2 separate regions of the Homo sapiens genome follow, and region 1 is linked to region 2. The links come from fine-mapping of genetic effects on gene expression. Tissue or cell type: aorta. Region 2 holds a variant in brackets; the other region holds the start of a gene. All regions are shown on one strand. Distances are from middle to middle.

The links. PIP is the estimated chance that this variant, and not a neighbour inherited with it, causes the effect.
Region 1: DEGS1 starts here. The variant in region 2 is fine-mapped to the expression of DEGS1 in aorta (GTEx, PIP above 0.99).

What each region holds. Positions count from the first base shown.
Region 1 is chr1:224,179,857-224,187,950 of GRCh38, forward strand. DEGS1 (delta 4-desaturase, sphingolipid 1) reads left to right here and starts at 3,384. Exons shown (of 3, transcript NM_003676.4): 1 at 3,384-3,562. The coding sequence starts at 3,481. RefSeq lists enhancers at 2,560-2,709, 2,563-3,393, 2,970-3,059, 3,394-4,223, 5,697-5,756 and 1 more and silencers at 3,210-3,409, 3,510-3,889, 4,050-4,129, 5,431-5,725.
Region 2 is chr1:223,227,754-223,235,858 of GRCh38, forward strand. It overlaps SUSD4 (sushi domain containing 4), which reads right to left. Exons shown (of 9, transcript NM_017982.4): 6 at 1,444-1,635. Among named protein-coding and RNA genes, the nearest start is that of TLR5, 89 kb to the left of the region's middle. The variant C/G (reference allele first, on the strand shown) is at 3,982.

The sequences.
Region 1 (8,094 bases), 950 kb after region 2:
TATATGTAATGACTTTTGCAAATGATCAGTGCTAATTTGCAGACTTTTGTTTAAAGAGGGTTTAAACAAAATAAGAAAATTTCATGATTACCAGTTGCTATTAAATGAATTGTAACTTTTTTTAAAAAAAAAGAATGTCCAAGCCAGGTGTGGTGCTCATGCCTGTAATCCCAGCACTTTGGGAAGCCAAGAAGGGCAGATCACTTAAGGTCAGGAGTTCAAGACCAGCCTGGCCAACATGGTGAAACCCCGTCTCTAGTAAAAATACAAAAAGTTGCTGGACGTGGTGGCACACACCTGTAATCCCAGCTACTCGGGAGGGTGAGGCAGGAGAATCGCTTGAACCCAGGAGGCAGAGGTTGCAGTGAGCCAAGATCTTGACACTGCACTCCAGCCTGGGCAACAGAGCGCAACTCCATCTCAGAAAAAAAAAATGGTATATCCAGATTCACATTTTTTTTCAAACTCTGCATTTTTCTTTCTTTCTTTTATTTTTTAATGTTTTTGAGACAAAGCCTCACTCTGTCACACAGGCTAGAGTGCAGTGCCACAATCTCAGCTCATTTCTCAGCTCATTGAAGCCTCGACCTCCTGGGCTCAAGCAATCTTCCCACCTCAGCCTCAGCAATAGGTGGGACCACAAACATGGGCCACCACGCCCAGTTAAATTTTTTTTTTTTTTTTTTGAGACGGAGTCTTGCTCTGTCGCCCAGTCTGGAGTGCAGTGGTGCGATCTCGGCTCACTGCAAGCTCCGCCTCCCGGTTTCATGCCATTCTCCTTCCTCAGCCCCCCAAGTAGCTGGGGCTACAGGCGCCCCCCCCACCATGCCTGGCTAATTTTTTTTGTATTTTTAGTAGAGATGGGGTTTCACCGTGTTAGCCAGGATGGTCTGGATCTCCTGACCTTGGAGACCGCCTTGGCCTCCCAAAGTGCTGGGATTACAGGCATGAGCCACCATACCCGGCATAATTTTTGTATTTTTTATAGAGGTGGGTTTTTGCCATGTTGCCCAGGCTTGTCCCGAACCCCTGCCCTCAAGCGATCCCCCTACCTCGGCCTCCCAAAGTGCTCAGACTACAGACGTAAGCCTCCGCACACCTTTTGGACTGGTGTGCCAGTTCACACATGCCTGTGATAGCAACTGCGTTCTGAACTGCAGGGATACATTTACTTGTCAGCACCTGAAAACTTCCTCCTGAGTTGAGTCCAATTATCAGCTTCATGTGCCATCTGCCAATCCAGATGAAACTTGGCAAATACAAAGCTGTCCTTTTCCAGGTGACACTCCCCACCTTCTTTTTCCTCCACCATTTCATTAACAACTAAAAAGCTCCTGCATGATCAGACCTGTGTATCTATCCATCATCAAATCCCACTCCTTTTTCGAGACTGGGACCCTCTGGAGGCTGACCCAGCCACGCATTTGCTAGCATGCCCTGCAGACATGACCCTCGCTGGGCTCTGATCAGCCTTCAGGCCTCCACTCCAGGTGTCACTGTTCTGTCTCCCCTCTGCTCTCACAGCCTTCTCTGCTAGATGTCTCAGCCGTGCTGGCCCTCTCTATTTCAGAAGTGAATGTACTGAGAGGGTCTTAGGGACTTATTAATAATGCTCCTGGGGTCGGATGTAGTAGCTCATGCCTGTGATCCCAATACTTTGAGATCACTTGAGCCCAAGCGTTTGAGACCAGCCTGGGCAACAAGGTGAGGCCCCATCTCTATCAAAAATTCAAAAAAGTAGCCAAGCATGGTGGTGCACGCCTGTGATCCCAGCTCCTCGGGAGACTGGGGTGGGAGGATGGCTTAAGCTCAGGTCAAGACTGAAGTGAGACATGAGGCCACCACTGCACTCCAGCCTGGGCAACAGAGCAGGACTCTGTCTCAAAAAAAACAAAACCCACTATAACCATAATACTATTATCACACTTAAGAAATTCATAATTCCTTAATATCATCACATATCCAATTGATATCTGAGTTCAATTATTTCATGTCAATGTTTTTAAACTATTTCAATCAGAATCTAAATGAGGTCAACACGTTGCAATTGGTTGGTATGTCTTTTAAACTCCTTTTAATCTACAGGTTTCTCTTTTTTTGCCTTGAGTTTCATTTATTAGAGAACCCAGACATTGTCCCATATAGTCTCCCAGAGTTGGATCTTGCTAGTTTCATCCCCACGGCCTAGTTTAACACATTCCTCTGTCCTTTCTATTTTCTTTTTTTTTTCTTGAGAGGGAGTCTCCGTCTGTCCCCCAGGCTGGAGTGCAGTGGCTCCGTCTCAGCTCACTGCAACCTCTGCCTCCCAGTTCGAGCGATTCCCCTGCCTCAGCCTCCTGAGTAGCTGGGATTACAGGCGCCTGCCACTACGCCCAGCTAATTTTTTTATATTTTTAGTAGAGACGGGGGTTTCACCATCCTGATCAGGCTGGTCTCGAACTCCCGACCTCAGGTGATGGACCCGCCTCTGCCTCACAGAGTGCAAGGATTACAGACGTGAGCCACCGCACCCGGCCAAATGTCCTTTCTATTTTCTATAAATTAACAGTCAGATCTAGGGGCTCGATCAGATTTGTGTGTGTGTGTGTGCCGTGTGCGCGTGCACAGCATGTTCTTTGACTAGGAGGCACACCTGCTTTGGTTATCTTCTTTTTGTAATCTTTAAGTTGCTCTTTGATGTAGACGTGGTAACTAATGTTGAAACAAAATTAGTTTCGTTTCAAAACCTTTCTTTCAGGAAGAGGTTGTGGTTGATTACTTCTGCGACAGGTAGATGCAAGGTTGAGCAATCATCTCTTAACAGAAGTGGTCACACTAGAATAATTCAAGCACAACAACAAATCCCACATCATCACCCCCTCTTAATAATGGTGTTTTCTTTTTACTTGATTAGCTTTTAATTGTCACGCACTCTGCATTTTTTCCCTGAGGTATTATTTCCAGAAGGCAGCGAAATATGACTCAATGGCTAATTTGCTTTTTAAAAATTAAACAAAACTTAGGCCAGCTGCCATTTAAGAAGGGCTCCGGGGCCTCCAGACTCGGTGTGACCGTAGCCGTGCCCGGTGCTCCCCTCGCGGAGGCGTTAGGGCGGCAGGTTTATCTCACTTGAGACCATTCCTTCCTTTTTCATCTTCTCCGGGCTCCGGCGCAGCAGGCCGCAGGGGCGGGCACTCGCAAGAACGCGGCATCCTGGATGGTGGCCGAGTCACCGAAGCTCAGAACCCCGCGTCCCAGAATCGCTGAGAGCCGGCCCCGCACGGGGGCCTGGGAGCGCCACGCGCCCTCCACCCAGAGAGGCAGGCGGGCGGGCCGGGGGGGGCGGGGCCTCGGGACTCCGCCCACGCCTCCGTCTCCTCCGCGCTCCGCCACAGCCGGCCGACACCACACCAGCCGGGGAGCCGCCGCCGCCGCCGCCACCTCTGAGCAGCCGGCTGGGAGCGAGAGCCGACAGCTAGTCTGCAAGCCACCGCTGTCGCCATGGGGAGCCGCGTCTCGCGGGAAGACTTCGAGTGGGTCTACACCGACCAGCCGCACGCCGACCGGCGCCGGGAGATCCTGGGTGAGGGCCAGCGGGCGCCCCGTTATGTGCGTGCGTGGCCTCCCGGCGCCGGGGCGCGCTCTCCCCTCGCGGGCCCTGCGCGGTCGTGGGCGCCGGAGGCCCGTTAGCAGCCTGCTCCCCGTCGCGTCCCGTCGCCGCTCGGGCCGCCAGCCCGCGGGTCAGCGCGGGAGAGGCTGGGCGAGGAGCGGGGGGAGGGACGGGTCCTCGGAGCCGCGCAGCTCCGACCCTTCCGCGAAGAGGCGCAGGCGCGTCCCCGAGCGCGGGAGTCCCCGCCAGGCCCACGCCGGCCGGTTGGGGCGAAGGGTGTCCCCGGCTGTGCCAGCCTTGAGTAGATCTTTTCGCTAGAAGATTCCTGTGCCCTCAGGTGGGCGCCCTTTCCTCTCACCACTCCCTCTCCTCCGGAGCGGGCCGAGGTGAGCGGGTGCCGGCCTTGGGGCTGCCTGAGTGCTAGGCAGGGTGTGGTCCTGGGCATCCTTGGGCCTACCAGCGAGCCCTGCTCAGGGTGTCGGGCGCCGGCGGGCAGTACTGGCGGGGGCGGCCGCAGTCCCGGCCTTGGGCCCGTTAAGGGGGCCGGCGTCCCTCCATATGCCCCCCGGGGCTTCTCGGACTTGATGGGCCCTGGTCGGTTCACGCCGCTTGTCCCATTGATCCTCACGACAAGCCTGGGACGTAAGAACGGCGGATTCGTAGGCATTTTTCATCCATCTCGGTTTTGTGGATGAAAAGACTGAAAATGGAAGACTTGCCAAATAAGGAAAATATGTGGCGTGGCCTGCTGGTCCCCTGACAGCTAATTGAGAGGCCTTAACTCTCCAGAGGATTCGGGCCTTCTGTGTTACATAGAGAATGCTCATCTCTCCCAGGCTACTCCTAATATGCTAGGGATTGTGTGGAATGCTTTACAAACATTACCCAATTTCATCCTCTTGGTAATTCTACTTGGTTGGTATTATCGCTGTTTTAAAAAATGAAATAAGAACGCGTGACTAAATGCTAGGGGGATTCTAATGCGCATTCGGTTGCCTCTTCCAGAGCACGTGTTTGTTTTTTGTTTGTTTGTTTTTTGAGACTGCACGTGTTTGTTTTTTGTTTGTTTGTTTGTTTGTTTTTTGAGACTGAGTCTCACTCTGTTGCTCATGCTGGAGTGCAGTGGCGCGATCTCCACTCGCTGCAACCTCTGCCTCCTGGGTTCAAGCGATTCTTCTGTCTCAGCCTCCCGAGTAGCTGGGATTACAGGTTCCCACCACTACGCCTGGCTAATGTTTGTATCTTTTTTAGTTAGAGACGGGGTTTCACCATGTTGGCCAGGCTTATCTCGAACTCCTGACCTCAGGTGATCCGCCCGCCTTGGCCTCCCGAAGTTTTGGGATTACAGGCGTGAACCACCGTGCCCGGCCAGAGCACGAGCTTTTTAACCTCTGTTGAGGAAACGGGGACCGGTCACGGTAGCTCAGGCCTGTAATCCTAGCACTTCGGGAGGCTGAGGCGGGAGGATCGCTTCAGCCCAGAAGTTTGAGACCATCCTGAGTAACATAGTGAGAGCCCCCCGTTTACACACACACACACACACACACACACACACACACACTTTTTTTAAATTGAGGAAACGGTGAGTTGAACATGAGCAATTATTCCTTATATATAGTATTTCCTTAGTTTTTCTTCTCAACATTCATTTGCCCAGTGAAAAGAAAAAGCAAGTAGCTGGGACCACAAGCGCACACCACCATGCCTGGTTGATTTTTCTATTTTTTGTAGAGATGGGTTTCTCCGTGTTGCCCAGGCTGGTCTTGAACTCCTGGGCTCAAGCAATCTGTCCGCTTTGGCCTCCCAAAGTGCTGGGATTTTAAAGGCGTAAGCCACTGCACCCGGTAACTTTGGGTTCTTGAATTCCCTTCCTCCTCTTCTTCCTCCTCCCCTACACTCCATTAGAGAAAGGGTCTTGCTTTGTTGCCCAAGCTGGAGTGCGGTGGTTGTTCACAGGCATGATGATCACTGCAGCCTGGGCTCCAGTGGTCCGCATACCTCAGCCTGCCAGTAGCAATTTGTTTGGCACATCACTTACACATACTTGATATGAGATAGCATGATACTTTTTTGAGACGGAGCCGCACTCTGTCACCCAGGCTGGAGTGCAGTGGCCCAGTCTCGGCTCACTGCAACCTCTCCCTCCTGGGTTCAAGCAGTTCTGCCTGCCCCAGTCTCCCGAGTACCTGGGATTACAGACGCCCGCCACCATACCTGGCTAAGTTTTTCTATTTTTATTTTTAGTAGAGACAGGGTTTTGCCACATTGGCCAGGCTGGTCTCAGATGATGCGCCTGCCATGGCCTCCCAAAGTCCTGGGATTACAGGCGTGAGCCACCCTGCCAGGCCACATATGATATATTTTATCAATGCCTTATCTACATGTTACATAGGAATAATCTAGCGTCCTACCTGTGTAAAAACCAACTCTGGAATACTGAAACTGAGCTACTTAATATTCTGAAAATCAGGACGGGTGTGGTGGCTTTTTTTTGCCTGTAATCCGAGCACTTTGAGAAGCTGAGGCAAGAAGATCGCTTGAGGCCAGTTCAGAACAGCCCCATCTGCACGAGAAATTAAAAAATTAGCTAGGCGTGCATGCCTGTCCCGCTACTCAGAAGGCTGAGGCGAGAGGAACACTTGAACTCAGGAGTTCGAGGCCAACCTGGGCAACATGGCAAAACCCCATCTCTACCAAAAAAAAAAAAATTTAATTAGCGGGACATGGTGGCATGTGCCTGTGGTCCCAGCTACACAGAAGGCTGAGGTGGGAGGATTGCTTGAGCTGGGGAGGTAGAGGCTGCAGTGAGCCGTGATTGCCCCACCGCGTTCCAGCCTGGGCAACAGAGTGAGACTGTCTCAAGAAAAAGAGATGAAGGAAGTGAGAAGGTGCTGATTGATACTTACCTCACACTGAGCCTTTTTTCCCCCCACAGACTTATCACTGAACCATTTCACTGGGAAAGTAAAAGGACCACATATTTCTTGGCCGGGCATGGTGGCTCACGCCTGTAATCCCAGCACTTTAGGAGGCTAAGGTGGGCGGATCATGAGGTCAGGAGATCGAGACCATCCTGGCTAACACGGTGAAACCCCATCTCTACTAAAAATACAAAAAATTAGCCGGGCGTGGCGGCAGCCACCTGTAGTCCCAACTACTCAGGAGGCCGAGGCAGGAGAATGGCGTGAACCCGGGAGGCAGAGCTTGCAGTGAGCTGAGATGGTGCCACTGCACTCCAGCCTGGGCGACAGAGTGAGCCTCCGTCTCAAAAAAAAAAAAAAAAAAAAAAGAAGGACTACATATTTCTCAATGAAAATACAGTGTACAATGTTTTCCATGCAGGTGTAAATACTAACTCATGTTCTGTTTCAGGGTGGGAGATGGAATAACCTGTAGAAAGAATCTTTAGATTTGTTTAAATTATACACAAATGATAAGAGATCTTTCTGAAAGTATTGACTTTTTGGCGGGGGAGGGAAGGGGCCTGATAGAACAACCAACAATTGTACACTTTAAGTTTACATTTAGAGTTCACATTAAAAGTTCATTTACAAGGCATCTGTTTGAAATTCGTGAGGATGAGCTGGGCTGGGTGGCTCATGGCTGTAATCCCAGCCCTTGGGTGGCTGAGGTGGACAGGTCACCTGAGGTCAGGAGTTCAAGACCAGTCTGGCCAACATGGTGAAACCCCGTCTCTACTAAAAATACAAAAATTAGCTGGGTGTGGTGGTGGGCGCCTGTAATCCCAGCTACTGGGAAGGCTGAGGCAGGAGAATTGCTTGAACCCAGGAGGCAGAGGGTGCAGTGAGCTGAGATCTCACCATTGCACTCCAGCCTGGGCAACAGAGCGAGACTCCGTCTCAAAAAAAAAAAAGAATAAATCACAAGAAATGGTTCCTTCACTGTTATACTTTAACATGATACAGCTTTTTAATGTTTTATTTTTTGAGAGAGAGTCTCACTGTGTTGCCCAGGCTGGAGTGCAGTGGTGTGATCATAAATTCTTGGGCTCAAGTGATGCTCCCGCTTCAGCATCCTAAGTAGCTGGGACTACAGGCTTGTGCCACCTCACCTGGCTAATTTTTTTTATTTTTGGTAGAAATAGAATCTGTTTGCCCAGGCTGGTCTTGAACACTGGGCCTCAGGCAGTCTTTGTGCCTCAGCCTCCCAAAGTGCTGGATTAATGGTGTGAGCCACAGCACCTGGCCAATAGCTTTATTGAGATTATAATTCAACTATCATGATTTATTCATTTAAAGTGTACAGTTCAGTATTTTTTAGTATATTCACAGAGTTGTGCAGCTGTCACCACCATATAACCTTAGAACATTTCATCATCACCAAAAGAAACCCTATACTCATTAGCAGTCCCTCATATCCCCTGCTTCTACCTAGGTAACCACTAATCTACTTTGTGGCCTATAGATTTGCTTATTCTGGACATTTCATATACATGAAATCATAAAATACCTGATCTTTTATGATTGGCTTTTACTTAGCATAAT
Region 2 (8,105 bases):
CAAAGCTGTACGTGAGGCTCCCAGACCATGAGAGGTGCCGAGGTTCCCCGTGGGCTCATTTGCTGGATTCATCTGGCACAAGAGATGCGTGCAAGGTGCCTCTGACCCCCAGGGCTCGGCAGAGATACCATGTGCCCCTGTAGCTCATGTAAATTGCATCAGGATCCACCCAACACTAAAAACCTGTCTCCAGCATGGGCTCTGCCAGGTTGCAGACCTGCATGCTCACATTCCAGTCCCAGGCGCAGGCCTGGCACAGGCTTAAATAATGCATCTGCCTCTTGAGAACAGAGGTGGGCATCTCTCTTGCCTGGAGAAGTTGCTCCGAAATGGACCAAGGGGTGGGGGAGTGGGAAGCTGGGCCCTTTGTGAATGTTCTGGGATATGCTGTGGGGTTGGGTAAAGCAAGAAACAGAGGGTAAAGGGGACCCCTGTTCCACAGCTCTCATGCCCTACCACCTCTAGCCATCAACTGCCTGCCAGGTCAGGGGCAGCAAGAGCAGACCTTTCCAGAAGAGACTTATCCTTTGGGCACAGGCCACCCTGTCTCTTAAATGTCTCTCTGCCTTGTCATGACCACCCTCTTAGACACTCTCTTTGCACTTCTCCCCCGGCTGGCTCACAGGATCATGTGTGCGCCTCCAGAGACCTGGCATTAACAAGTGCTTCCTTGTGTCCAGGGGAAAGGCATGCAGTCATCAGCACTGCTCAGGGCAGCATCCCCAGCCTGGAAAGGGCTGGAGAGAGTGGGAAGGAGACAGTGGGTGTGTGCTGGTGCCCCAGTCTCTATCCTGTGGTCACTACCCAGGTGCACTGAGGCCAGTGGGGAAGGTGGTTTGCAATTAAGTCATTTGCTTTTAACTATGAAGCCCTGAAGCTTGCAAATGGCCTATAGTTTTACAAGTGAGAGCAGGTGTTACCCACAGTATCATCTGTATTCTGATATGTGTCCTTGAGTGGAAGAGAAAGGTAAAGTTATGCGTTGCTTGGGTCCAGGGCAATGCATCTAATTCTGGTCACACCCACAGGCCTGTGTCCTTACCAGTGGAAAAGGACAAGGCTGGGAGAAAAAAGAGTGTGGAGGCTGGAGGTCTTTCCATGGATGCTAGGGGTCTAGGGACCCTGTTTAGATGGTCAGCTTTTTAACCTGGGAATGGACAGGTTAATACTCCTGACCCTCTGAATAGGGTCCCTAGGCCCCTAGCATCCATGGAAGGACCTCCAGCAGACAGTTAATACTCTTGACTGTCTGAACAGGACCTACAAGCATCTGGCACAGAGCCCAACAGCAGCCCCATCGACCCGCAATGATATGTTTCGATATCCTGTTCCTGACACTGGGTGGGGGAGGAGAGATACAGCTTGGTACATAACCACCACCCACTATGTGCAGATGGTCCAAGGAGGGTCCATCTCCTCCAAGGGTGAGGCCTTCAGTCTTACCTGATTTGATGCAGTAGACTTGATAAGAAGGAAACCACTCTCCATACTGGCAGGTGATGTACTTGTAGTCGCTGGTGAGGCTGTAGCCAGGATCGCAGTAAAACTCCACCACAGTTCCGTGGTTGTAGCGCTCACAAGGCCGCGGGTGGCAGACGAAATCTCCGTGACTCACCATTGGAGGTAGTGGACAGACTTGGGCAGTAGGGGAGAATAAAAGTTTCAGAACCACAAGCTCACCTTTGTCTGAAGCCCCTAAGACGAAGAATGGCCTAGGAGAACTCAGTTAAAAATGTGCTTATGGATTAATCACCAGGCTACTGAGTTGCATTAGAGATGGTCTCTTTTTTAGTATTTCATGGAAGGCGGAATGGAAGCCTGCTGTAATATTCTGAGCACGTGCCGTTGTGACATGGCATTGTGAAGTACATCGTAAAAGAGAGGTTCGTTTTACAATGCAAAGAGTATGCCTATTTAATAGAGAGTATTAAGCTACTGTATTAATAATGCATGCTATTATGTGCCAGACAACCTAGTAAATAAAATTAACATATTTCTGTACAAAATCTTTACTGAAAGGCATAGTTATCCCAAGCCTGTTTCTGTGACCACAGTAGTAATTTGGGTCTATTAAAATCACAGGGCAGTGTCCCTAACCTGATCCCCTACAGCTCTGCTGAGGCTTAGCCAATGACGAACATGGAGCAGTTCTTCTAGCTCTGCTTGCAGAGCCAGGGCACAGCCTCCAGGGCAACCAGAGTTAGGTGCCTTGGGCATGAGGCTTGGTTCTGCCACCAACACCACACTGTGTGACCTTAAGCAGATCCCTTAACCTCTTTGAGCCTTGATTTTTCTCCTCTGTCAAATGGAAGCTTATTCTACCCTAGGAGGACGCCTTAGGGTTCTGACTCGAATATCCCATCATGTTAGGGGAAGAAAAAGTTGTTTTTAGTGTCTTTAGTATCTTGGTACTGCATTCTAGGTTGCGAGGTAAGGACGGTTCCATCTCTGTCACCACAAAGACGGCTTCAGTGGGAGTTCGGTGCTTTTTATGCCACAAGGAGCTCATTCTTGGATGAGGACTCAGAAATAAACAGTGCTGCTGCTTAAACATTCTTCAAGAAACAGTCAAACCACAGATTCTATCAGTGCCAACTTCAAACCCACACTCACAGAAACCAGTAAGAATTCTGACCAAAAAAAAAAAAACCTAAACGAAAAAGAGTTAACTTTTGATTCCCTCCCTTGGGGTAACCAAACACCCTGGCCAGTGCAGAACAGGCACTGCCCACCATACAGGCCAGAAGAGGTGCCCTCTCCACACTGGCCACTGAAACTACTCACTGGCAGCAGTGGGTGCCACTTGGAAAACAAGATGGCCCTCCCTGCAGAGCAGGCCACCCTGCCGGAGGTGTCCCGATGCGTGTGAAGCAGGGTTGGAGGCACACTACAGGCACTCTCTAGTCCTTCAAACAACACTGTAGTGTAGATCTTGTTGGTTCTTTCAGAGAAGGGGAAACGGAAACTCACAGAAGCAACTAGAGGAGTGAGTAGAAGCCCAGGTATGCTCTAGACAGGCCTAGGTCTGAATTCCGGCTGAACTACTCACCAGCCGAGTCACCCTAAACCAATCCCTGTGCATCTTTGAGCTTCAGGGTCCTCAGCTGTACAACAAGAGTCTCTGAGGGCTATCTCGAGAAATGCTGGTGAGGGCTTAGTTCAGAGCTGACAAACTGTGATTATTCAGGGAAAACCAGGACTTGAGTATCTAAAGAGATGGAATTTAACGAGGTGATGGCAAAGTGGAGAAGCCAGCAGGAACACCCCAAGATTAGTGAGAGCAGGAAGCCACTACCGCTCCTGGGCTGGTGGGATGAAGGGGTCTCGTTGCTGGGGTCCCTAGTGGAAGGTGGAACCATGGAGGTCTATCCCGCGGGAACTGGAGCCCGGGGAAACTCAGACCCCGCTGGAGATGTCCCCAGGGCAGGAACAGTGAGGGAGAAGTAGCCTGGTTCTCCACCTGCCCACCCTCCAGGCTCCCTCTGGACAAAGCCAGTGGGGAGCCAGGTGACAAGGGGGTCTGGGAAACAGGGTCTGCGGTGGACAGCCTGTCTAGATCTGGTGCAGTGCAGGGAAGGTCCAGGGCAGATCTGAGGCTGGCAGGCCCAGGTGTGCTCAGTAAATGGTGGCTGTCAGGTGGCTGCTGTGAGCATCCCACAGGTGGACACTGGCAGAGACAGGCTTTGAGCTCTGACTCTGAGGCCCAGGAGCTTTCTGCTGCTCTGCCTCAGGGTCTCTCCTGGGCTGGCAAATGCAGTCACACAACCCCTTGCATTTCCACAAACAGGGGCTCTTTTCAAGTTTGCTACCACCAGGGTGCTCTGGGAGCATCTCCAGGAAATAAAGCAGAAGGAAGCAAAGGGAAGGACAGCTGATGAGGAACAGGGAGAGAGAAAAAGGCACTGGCCACGTTGTTGAACTGGTCCTGGGAGATCCAGGGATGTGGCCGTAAGGGCTCTTCTCTCCTTGGAGGCCCTCCTC[C/G]GTGCTGCTTCTCCTCTACTCAATTCCTGGTTCTTCCCACAAGGAAGGGGTCTCCAGTGGCCCCGGGACTGCCTGGGGGCCCCCTTCCCTGCACTGCTGGAGCATTCCCCAGCGCTGTTGTACGCTCAGGAGGCCGGCATCTTCTCTGGGACAGGAGCCCCTTTCTGTGGTCAAGGGTATGGCAAGTGTCCATTGACAGATGAATGGATAAAGAAAATATAGGCAATATACACCACAGAATATTATTCAGCCTTAAAAAGGAAGGAAATCCTGCCATTTAGGACACAATGGAGAAACGTGGAGGACGTTCTGCTAAGTGAAATAAACCAGGCACAGAAAGACAAGATACTGCATGATTTCACTTATATGTGAAATCTAAAGAAGTTGAATACATAAAACCAGGGAGCAGAACAGTGGTTACCAGGGTTGGGGAGGTAGAGGGAATCAGAAGATGTAGGTCAAAGGGTAAAAGGGTGCAGTTCCATAGGACGAAGCCCAGAGCTCTGATGTATAGTATCCAGACTCCAGTTAATAATACTGTATTATACACTGGAAATTCACTAAGAGAGTAGATTTCAGGAAATGGATTATGTTAACTTACTTGACTGTAATAGTCATTTCACTGTGTAGATGTATCTCAAAACATCATGTTGTACACCTTAAATATCTAACATTTTTATGAAAGAGAAAAAGAGGTACACAGAGCAGGAAGGCACTTCTCCTCAAAGGCTCTCTAAACAAGCCCCTGAGGGCCACTGTAGGATTAGAAAATTACCAAAACTCTTTTCAAAGCACAGAAAATGTCATGAAAGAGCCCACATAAATGTATGCAAGTTTGTTATCAGCAGCATTTTTTTCTCACTGGGCCTGAAAGATGAACGACTGTTCAAATCATTGCATTCACCCCGAGGCAAATGGTCCCATGGTGTGCTCAAGAATTTCTGTACCATACAGATCAACCATTTAATCAATCATTTAATGAGCAAAGGCAGGCAGCACGGAGTGGCATATAGGGCCGTGGGCTGTGGAGTTACCCAAATTTGTGTTCAAACCTCAGCTCTACCACTGATGAGCTTCAGGGTGTTAGGCAGCTTGTTTGACTTCTCAGGGTCTTAGCTTTCCCATCTGTCTAATGAGTGAAACAATTCCCAACTCCTCCAGTTGTTGAGAGGATTTGAAGATGTATGAAAACTGCATAACACAAAGGTCAGGGACACAGTAGGCACTTAATAAATAATAGCTATTAGTATCACTGGTGTCCAAACTTGCTGGGGTTCCCATGCTGCCCTTCCCGTACTGGGGCACTACCAGGCTCCTTATGCAATTAGGATACCTGGGATTGCACCAGGGAAGCCCCAAACATTCAGAGAATGTGAACACATCTCATCACCACATTTTCTCAGAGGCCAGATAAAAACCATCCATTGTAGAGGCCTTAACTCTGAGACTGTCATAATCGGCTGGTAATGGAGATGCATTTTCCCCTTAAGTAGAAACAATTATCTTCACACCTTGTAGTGTTTGTAATGATTGCACCTGGCAGACCATTAGCTTTGCTGTAAAGGAAACCCCATGTGGTGTGGTGAGGGTAGGGGGTGGGAGCGTTTCTTTTAACTTGGAAGGAAACAACAACAAAAGTATTATTAATTATAAACTTAGGGAGGCTTATTTAAAAATCCCAATATAAAAATACCCATGGCTTAGGGGACTTCCACCTCTCACCCAACACTGCCTCTCACTATGAGGCTCGACTGAGTACTGCTACTGTCTCCTCTCTACACCTTCCCTAACAGACAGACAGTTCCACACAGACAGACAGACAGACGGATGGACACACTCCCACACCCAGAGGCCTCAGACACATGGCAAACAGCCCCATGAACAACGGCCACATGGTTGGCGTTTGAAATAACCTGTGTGTTCCTAGAAATTCCGGTGAGTAAAAGTGGACCGGGCTATGGCACTTTTTTCTGTTCTTATCTTAGAACTCCTTTAGGCTCAGCCTGTGACTCATATCCCGTCAGTTGCTAGTTCTAAGGGAAACACACCCAGGGAAAACCTGTGGGTGGCATGAACAAAGATCCTTCTGCAACTCCATTTTTCTTAATGTTTCTTACTTTAGACATTATTAGCAACAGGGCTTTTGTGAGGCTTGGGAGTCTGGACATTCAGTGGTTATAGGCAGAATCCAAGAAAGGCTCTGCTGACACTCAGCCAGAAACGGATGATTCCTGTCCCCGAGGTGTGAAGTCTCTGTTCCTTGTTTCATGACAGAGGGTTACGGCTCTTTTCAGACTAGCTGGAAAATTCCTACCTACCCAAAAGGCAGCAGAGTCCAGTTTTTACCATACTTAGTCTCTTGTGGAACTTCCCAGAGGTGGGCTACATGTGGGGAGGCGGGACCAAAGGATAGGGTGCTGAGGCATGGGACCTGAAGTCTTCCCTGTGTTGGCCAAGAATGGCCTGAGCTGGGCTGGATGGGGCTGCTATAAGACTGCAATTTCCCCAAATAAGCCTTCCCTCATTTTCCAGCCTCCTTTCAATTTAGTGTCTTTTCCTCACCCTCCCTCTGGCTATTTCCTCCTATGCAGATTTAATTCCAACACAAACACCAGCCTCTTTGGGAAGCCTTCCCTGAGTGCACAGGCAGTGATCTTGGAGTTCCTGGGCACTTTGTGCATTTTACATGCCTAATACTTGTACAGATTCATAAACTCTTTGAGAGCAGGGGCCGTGTCTCTAGAGTTTTTCTAACTCCTGTAGCATCCAGCATGATTCTTGATAAACATTTGCTATTTGAGTGAATGGAAATGTCAAAGTTTTCACAATAAACCAGAGGTGGTTCCCTGTCCACTTCTCTCCTGTTGGCAATGAGCTGCAATATTCATGCTGTGTCTGGTCTCATTTTTCAGTGGGGGAAAAAAGGTGAGACATGATAATAGTTTTATCATAGCCTCATGGCTTCACCCGACGGACACCACACACCAGGATTTGTGTCCATTTTAGGGATGTCTTAGTGACGTGAAATAGAGCTTTGCCAGTCCCACCTCTGAGATACACACTAAAATAAAGAGGCCAACGTTTCTAACACCTTCAAAACAATGCCAGTTGGTTCTTCCCTTGATGCACTAACAGGTGTGCAGATCATGGTGAAATACAGTATAGGATAAAAATGGAATGTTTAATTCAAACGTCCTTTATTGCAGGAGAACAACATTTAGAACAGAGATGTGGTGGTGCTAGTTGAGGAACAGGTAGGTGCTGGGGTGGGAGAGGACTTTAACACAGGGCAAAAATAAAGCACAGCAGCTGCCAACCTGATGTGTGGGAAATAAAGGACAGGGAAAAGATGTTCAGGTCTTCCTCCTGAAAAAAAGAAGTGTAAATATGAAAACATAAGAAGACTATTTCTCTTGATTGAAAAAAAAAACCTAAAGCCCTTTTCTTTCTAAAAAAAATAAAGACTTTATTTTTAAGAGCAGTTTTAGGTTCACAGCAATATTGAGCAGAAGGTACAGGAAGTTCCCGTATACTCCCTGCTCCCACGCATGCACAGCCTCCCCCATTATTCACATCCCCACCAGAGTGGTGCATTTGTTACTGCTGATGAACCTACATTGATACATCATTATCACTCAGAGTCGAGTTTACATTAGGGTTCACTCTTGGTGTTGTACATTCTATGGGTTTGGATAAATGTGTAGTGACATGTATCCACCATTCAAGTTATCATGCAGGGTAGTTTCATTGCCCCCCCAAATCCTCTGTGCTCTGCCTGTTCATTGCCCCACCCACCCCCAAACCCCCAACAATCACTGATCGTTTTGCTGTCGTCATAGTTTTGCCTTTTCCAAAATGTCATATAGTTGGAATAGGACAGTATATAGCCCTTTGAGATTGGTATCTTTCATTTAGTAATATGCATTTGAAGTTTCTTCATATCTTTTCATGGTTTGAAGGTTAATTTATTTTTAGTGTTAAATAATATTCCATTGTCTGGATGTACCATAGTTTATTTATCCATTCACCTACTGAAGGACATCTTGGTTGCTTCTAAGTTTTGGCAATTATGAATAAATCTGCTATAACATTTGTGTGCAGGTTTTGGTGTGGACATAAGTTTT